Homo sapiens: one gene and its partner. The protein of the gene in region 1 interacts with the protein of each later gene in a biochemical or structural test. Each region holds a gene or a part of one and is shown on either strand. Other genes may lie near its edges.

Region 1 (3,744 bases):
AGAGCGAGTGGCGGATGGAGTTCTGCCAGCGCTGCTGGTTCTGCCGGTAGAAGGGGAAGAGGTCCATGATCCACTGGTAGATCTCGCTCAGCGTCAGCATCTTGTTGGGGCTCTGCTGGATGGCCATGGTGATGAGCGAGATGTACGAGTAGGGCGGCTTTGCGTGCGTGTAGCTGCGCCTGTAGGTCTTGGGGTCGCGGGCGCGGCTCAGGCCCGCCTGCCCGTACATGGGGCTCATGGAGTTCATGTTGGCGTAGGGGGCCAGGCCGCCCATGGCCCCGGCCGCCTGCCCCCCGAGCGGGCTCAGGCTGGGACTCAAGTGCGGCCCCATGCCCGCCACGCCGGCCGCCCCGGCCGAGCCGCCCATGCCCGCCATGGCGCCCGCGCCGGGGGACATCCCCGCCAGGGACGGGCTCATGCCAGCGCCCACGTACGACGACATGTTCATGGAGCCCGCGCTCATGTTGCCCGAGCCGCTGCCCATGGCGGCCGCCGACATGCTCATGTACGTGTTCATGCCGTTCATCCCCAGGCCGGCGTTCATGTTGCTCACGGAGGAGTAGCCCTGCGGACAGAGCCCCGGGAGGGAGGCGACAGCGTTAGCACCGCGGCTGGAGGGTGCCCAGACCTCCCACCCACCGCCCAGGCCTCCGCGTCCGGGGAGGCCTCCGGGGAGCCCTTTCGTCCCCGATGGCCCAGTCTCCGGACTCCGAGTCTGTTTCATTCAGGGAGAGTCATGATCGATCGCCCTTGGGAAGGTGGCGAGCGGATTGCTGCTTGGGCATGTGGCCCGTTCCTAGCCCTTCTCCACCTCGCCCAGATTCTAGAACAGGGGTCCCATGGAGTACTCCCAAGCCAGCACCCCAAATACATTCCCCTACCCCAGAGTCTCCCCAAACTCTCCCACCAGCATACTGAGCTGGCGCCGAGGCCCGAAGTCCCCGGACGCCACCTCCGGTCGCAGCAAGCAACCTGCGGGACAACGCGCGGGGCGCCTCGGGCTGCCTCCAGCGAAGACTGTCCCGGGCCCCCTCTGTCCGGTCTCCCTCCAGGGACCCCCTCCCTTGTCCCAGGGAAACTGCAAGGCAGTGCCTGTGCGGAGTGCGGGGGCGGCTGGAGGCACTGAACGGGGCAATAGGGAAAGAACCGAGACCTGAACCACACGCGGCTGAGCTTTGCAGGCAAAAACTTTCTTTCTCTTTGTCCACTAGTCTTTGACTCTGCCTCCACTTCAGCCCCCAACTCCTACCCATCTTCTCCTCCTCAGCTCCCCACCCCCTCGCCGGCCGACCTCCCACCCCTCCCCAGCCGCGCGCTGCCAAACATAACTCTGTTAGGATAGTGCGTGGCTCGGCCACGAAGAGGATTTGGAGGCGCCGCAAGTCAATATTTGATCACAAAGTTAATATTATCTCAAGGCTAACAGTGTGTCGTATAAAAAAGAGACCCATTTGATTCCAAGGAGGGCGGAAAAGGCGGCTGCCCAGAAAGGCTGGGGTTGTGGGGCGGGGTGGGGGGGTGCCAGCGAGGGAAGCGGTCCTGAGGTTGGGGAAGGAGCGAGCGCCGCCGCTCCACTTCCCCCTGGAAAAGACGAGCGCTTACCTCGGGCTCTGCATAGTAGCTGCTCCAGTCGGACGGCTCGTGCCCTTCCATCTTCACCGCTCCCAGCATACTGGAAGCCGAGTGCATGGCAGTTTAAAATTTAACAGCCACAACAAACGACCAGCAATCACCCCCCACCCCCACCCTCTTTTAAAAAAAAGTCAGCCAAAGCACCGTCCCCTCCTCCCTCCCTCTCTCGCGCTCCCTCTCCCTGGGCTCCACTCCCTCTCTCTCCCTGGGCAGGCCGGAGGCGGTAGTTGGAAGTGGGCGGGAGGTGGGGGGGGGCGAGGAGCGGAGGAGGCCCAGGCCAGCGCCCCGCGGTAGGGAGCACCCGCCGCCGCCGCGCTCACGGGCTGCCGGGTGGCGGCTGAGGTTGGCAGTGCCGAGCTGCCCCGAGGCGGCGGGAAGCGCGCGGCGCGGGGGCTAGTGGGGGGGTGGGGAGGAGGAGGAGGAAGGAGGAGGAGGAGGCGGTGGTGGTGGTGGAGGAGGAGGAGGAGGAGGAGGAGGAGGAGGAGGAGGAGGAGGTGTGGACCGCGGAGCGGACAAGTGCCGCAGTGACGTGGGAGGCTGGTGATATAGCGCGGCGCGCTGGCGCGGGCCTCCAATCCCCAGACCCGGGGCAGCCCATTTGAATAATCAGCTCACACCTAGGTGAGAGGTAGCCGCAGCCGGCGCTCCGCACCTGCCCCTCAGCGCCTGCCGTCCGCCCCACCGCCGCGGCGCCCCGCACTCCTGGGCGGGCCAGGGGAGCGGGCTGGGCGGGCGATCGGGCACGCGGGATCCCTGGTCGAGCCCCCTTTCCTCCCGGGTCCACAGCGAGTCCCCTGAGGAAGGAGGGACCTGGGAGGAAACCACCCTCTGGGGCGGCTCCGGCCTCCAGCCCCCGCCCCGTCTCATCGCGCCGGGCGCCCGGTGCGCCTGTCGGAGGGCGCGTCCAGCCTCAGTGCCCGGCAGATCCCTATGAAAGCCGGATTTATTTATGCCGGGTTTCTTCGCTCTCAGTGCTCATTCTCTGTCAAAACAGCAAGTCCATGACAGCCAATTTGCAAAGCGCTGTCCTATTTAGAAAAACTACGTACACACCTTTAACTCGCCCGCTGCTGCTCCTGCGAGGCCCCTCCCTGTTACAGTTCAGACCCGGAACGGCCTCGGGAGAAGCGCGGGGCGCACGGTCTGGCCGCCTCGGCTCTCCGACTCCTCAGACACCGGCCGCCAGGGACCCGCAGTGGGGCGGCCGGCGCCTGGCGCAAGCAGCCCCTCTAGCAGCGGCCGACGGTTGGGAGGCTGAGATTTGTCTCTGATATTCAGGCCGGCGTGTTTCAAGGTTACTTTTCAGTCACAACCGAGGTGCCCACAGCATTTCGTAACTAAAACAAACAGGGCAGGAGGTGGGGAGGGAGGGGTGAGGAGAGAAGAATCCAGGAATCAATGATGGGGCATATGGAGTTGACTTCAAGAGCGTCTCTGTCCTCTCTGTCTTCCAGAGGGACTGCTTAATAGAAATTAGAAACTCCAGCAATCGTATACTTTTATTTCCCCAGCAGCTCTTGGGTTCAAAAATTGTCTTCTGTTCTGGGTTAGCCTGTGAGCCCAGATTTGGAGTGGGGGGATATTGCAGGTGTTTGGATGTGGAGGCTCTTTCTTGGTTCTGAAAACCTGGCTGGACCTTGGGGATCCAGCCCTGTACCCACCCCCTCAGACACAGAGAATGCATAGGAACTAGTGGGCATCCAGCCCACCTGTCCAAAATTGGGGGCGATGGTGGCAGAAGACAGGCGAGATGGCAGACACGGAGCTTCGCATTGAAGCTTGAGTAAGGGTGAGGCTGGAAGGCAAGCGAGGAGGTAGCAGTAGGCACAGGGGAACCACTTCCCTAACCCCAGGACTCTCAGGTCTGCACGGTTTGGGACACAGAAGGAAGCCGCCGGCAGCATCTTTTGCTGCTGAAATGCAGATGGTTTGGACACTTCATAAAGAGGGCATTAATAAGCCCGCCGAGTGAGCGCCAGGGCGGGATTCTCCCACAAATTCAAGGTCTGTATCTCCGCGGAAGCCGTGCCTATCGGTCCCCCGAGTGCTGAAGGCTCCCACGAGGGGCAGGCCAGCCCGGTGCGCCAGGGAAGGAGCTTGATGGTGTGTACG
Region 2 (3,744 bases), on another chromosome or scaffold:
TATACAGGCGCTATAATGGCAATAAACAGGCTCATGATTAAAAGATGAATTAGGGCAACGAGAACAGGGCTTCTTCACAGAAGGAACACAAGGGAGTTTCAGAAAGTCACCTTAGTACTGACACTACGCGGGATCCGCTAATACTGCTCAGTACTTTAAACGCTCAGATACTCAGGGACGGAAGGCCCCTCCTGCCGCGGCCATGCTCATGCTTTTCAGCTTATTATCTTTTTTCCACTTCATTCTCCGGTTTTGGAACCAGATTTTAATTTGTCTCTCGGAGAGGCAAAGAGCATGTGCTATTTCAATCCTCCTTCTGCGGGTCAGGTAACGGTTGAAGTGGAACTCCTTCTCCAGCTCCAGGGTCTGGTAGCGCGTGTAGGCCGTCCGGGCCCTTTTGCCTTCCGGGCCGCCTATGTTGTCTGCAATAGAAAAGTCAGCGGTTTAGCCACCAACTCCTGTCTTCCAAAGTCCGCCAGGGGGACAAGCTTGGGTCATGAGCAGGGAACCCAGGCGAAAAGCTCAACAAGTTCTGCCTACCAGCCCGCACACCCCTCCCGAATTTCCTTCTCTCTTCCTTTCTAGAAAGAAAACAATACGATTTGGACCCTGGGAACAATCTGCCCATCTGAGGCTGGGGCCGTGTCCCGGCGGACTCCGGCTTTCCCTGGCCCCTCTCCTGCCCCCTCCGCCCTGCCCCGGGCGCCCCGATCGGGAGGCACAGCCCTCCCAGGCTGCCCACCGCACAGAAACCCAGGAAGCAAGGCCCTTTCCTGAGCGCCCAAGTGGCCTTCGGGTCACCCTCCCTCAAAGTTCCAGCCCCGAGAGCCGCCTCCCGTTTCCAGCCTGCAGGGTTGGGGAGCCTGTTTTCTTTTTCTTCCCTTTCCTTCTCTCTCCCTCCTGCCCCCAAAATTCAGAATCCTGCAGGCTCTCGCCTCGATTCTTTCCCCCAAGCCCCTTTTCGGGGGCTGTAATTAGTAACGCTGTTTCCCCAGCGTAGCCCTCCTCATAAATTATCCGCCGTGACAAGCCCGATTCACGGCTGCTACAGCCATCCTCTACCTCTCTGCGCCTTGCTCGGCTGGCCTGACCCGGGAGCGCGTCCCAAGGCGTGGGGTTCCAGAGGGGTTTTTTGCTTCCTCCCCCTTCCAACGTCTAAACTGTCCCAGAGAACGCCCATTTCCCCCACTATTTGTGAGCGCAGGGTGCTCGCAAAGAAGAGGAGGAAGGAGGAAGGCAGGGGAGGGAGAACGGCAAGGAGAGCTCCGCAGGGCTGGGAGAAATGAGACCAAGAGAGACTGGGAGAGGGCGGCAGAGAAGAGAGGGGGGACCGAGAGCCGCGTCCCCGCGGTCGCGTGGATTTAGAAAAAGGCTGGCTTTACCATGACTTATGTGCAGCTTGCGCATCCAGGGGTAGATCTGGGGTTGGGCGGGCGGCGCCGGGCTCGGCTCGCTCTGCGCACTCGCCTGCTCGCTGCTGGCAGGGGCGTCCTCCTCGGCTCCGGACGCCGTGCCAACCCCCTCTCTGCTGCTGATGTGGGTGCTGCCGGCGTCGGCCGAGGCGCCGCTGGAGTTGCTTAGGGAGTTTTTCCCGCCGTGGTGGCTGTCGCTGCCGGGCGAGGGGGCCACGGCGGAGCAGGGCAGCGGATCGGGCTGAGGAGAGTGCGTGGACGTGGCCGGCTGGCTGTACCTGGGCTCGGCGGGCGCCGCGCTGGCGCTGGCAGCGTAGCTGCGGGCGCGCTCTCCGGAGCCAAAGTGGCCGGAGCCCGAGCGGCCGACGCTGAGATCCATGCCATTGTAGCCGTAGCCGTACCTGCCGGAGTGCATGCTCGCCGAGTCCCTGAATTGCTCGCTCACGGAACTATGATCTCCATAATTATGCAACTGGTAGTCCGGGCCATTTGGATAGCGACCGCAAAATGAGTTTACAAAATAAGAGCTCATTTGTTTTTTGATATGTGTGCTTGATTTGTGGCTCGCGGTCGTTTGTGCGTCTATAGCACCCTTGCACAATTTATGATGAATTATGGAAATGACTGGGACATGTACTTGGTTCCCTCCTACGTAGGCACCCAAATATGGGGTACGACTTCGAATCACGTGCTTTTGTTGTCCAGTCGTAAATCCTGCCTGATGACCTCTAGAGGTAAACTCGTGCACTAATAGGGGAGTTGGGTGGAGGCGAGGGGGGTGGCGCGCGCGCCCCGGGCGCGTGCCCGCCGCCAGTTGCCGCCGTTCAGCCGGACTCGAGCGCCACCCGCTGGAGGCAGGGCTCATCGCCCAGCTTCCGACCGGGGGCTGCAAGGGCCGGGGTCGAATTGAGGTTACAGCCCATTATGGCAAAATTATTGCATTTCCCTCGCAGTTCCATTAGGATGTACCAATTGTTAGGCCGTCAGCTGCCGATCGCGCGCCCGGCGAGGATGCAGAGGATTGGGGGGAGGTGGTGACTTGCATTTTATTTACAACAACTTTATTTCCCCCGTTTTGCAGCCCCTCTTATTTTTGTGTCGAGGTTGGGGTCGGTACTGACCGTCCTGCCAGCAGCTCTGAATTTTGAAAATACAGATATCACCTTCGGGGAAGGGGGAAAGCCATTTAGCCAATTGGAGAAATAAATCCTGCCCGCAGCAGCAGCAGCTACAATTACGGCTCTGTTTTTGCGAGCGCATGAGGGACAGTGTCCCTGCCGCTCTTAAATGACAGGCGTCTATTAAAGATAGCTTTTGTGTAGTGTTTCTCCAAGGCGAGGTCAAATTCCATACACTTTTATAACCGTAGTCGATTTTTCTTTCGTGTGAATATGGTTTTCGTGTCATTAGTTTGCGATTTGATTTGCTTACGTATCCAGCCTGGAAAATCTTCATCACAGGGTCCGGTTCCTCGAGCCAGCCGGGCCCCAAGTCGGAGGGTTCTCCTTGAACCCAGCGAGTGGGCCCAGGCTCCCTGCAGCCACAGAGGCTGCCTGGGGTCTGGGGATCCGTGGGGCGGGTTACTGGGGTCTTGCTTAGACCTCCAGGAGTAAAATGAGGGCGATAATGGAAGCATTCCTTGGCAGTGCCTAGTATCTCTGTAGTTATTTTCCACGGCTCCGAAAGACTCAAGTAAATCACAAATATAGCTGAGAGGCAAGTGGAGTCTCCCCGCTGGAGGCCCGGCGTTGCAGGCGCCCCTGGCACGTCTGGAAGCCAGGACTCTGGCGGCTCCCATGGCCCTGGGCCCCTCGTTGGGTCCTGAACGCTGCTGTGGCGGCGACGCGGGCGCTATCGGAGGCTGGGAGCGGGAATCCGGAGCCGGGAGCCTACCCCGGGCTGTAATGTTCCACCCGCGCCCAGGTTAACTCGCCTCGGCTGAGGCTGCTTCTCTTCCACTGACGGTTGCACACGCGGGACCGAGAGACTGGGCTCTGTTGGGGCCCCCTTTGTTCCTCGAGCTTCCTTCCTGTTCTGGGAGGCGGCTTGGGAGGCCGCGACAAGGCCGGGCTCCAGCTCTTAGACCCCCTCTTTCCACTGGCCAGAGATGATTTGATGATGCCCTTCGGGACTTACTGGCGAGGGACTTAGGCAGAGACGCCCAGACACGAAACGGGGCTCGGCCCAGGGCTCTTTCCTCCCCAGCAGCCCCGCGTCCCGAGGTCGGGGAGCTCAGAGACACTAGCACAGGAGCCCCAGACGCATTCAGGGCGCACCCCAGAACTCCGGAGCCGGTTTGGGCATCCTTGTGGAGCGGGACTGGGTGTGTGCA

What was found. The genes of interacting proteins can lie anywhere in the genome.
Region 2: the proteins of FOXA2 (region 1) and HOXA5 form a complex in vitro, tested with the Homo sapiens proteins (2 studies listed by BioGRID).

Annotation. Positions count from the first base shown.
Region 1 is NC_000020.11:22,582,590-22,586,333, forward strand, and holds the start of FOXA2 (hepatocyte nuclear factor 3-beta), read right to left. Parts: upstream 1,984-3,744; 5' UTR 1,690-1,983; coding exon 1,603-1,689; exon of another isoform or gene 1,154-1,602; intron 566-1,153; coding exon 1-565. UniProt on the Homo sapiens protein: Transcription factor that is involved in embryonic development, establishment of tissue-specific gene expression and regulation of gene expression in differentiated tissues.
Region 2 is NC_000007.14:27,141,664-27,145,407, forward strand, and holds the start of HOXA5 (homeobox protein Hox-A5), read right to left. Parts: upstream 2,019-3,744; 5' UTR 1,945-2,018; coding exon 1,383-1,944; intron 423-1,382; coding exon 172-422; 3' UTR 1-171. UniProt on the Homo sapiens protein: Sequence-specific transcription factor which is part of a developmental regulatory system that provides cells with specific positional identities on the anterior-posterior axis. Also binds to its own promoter.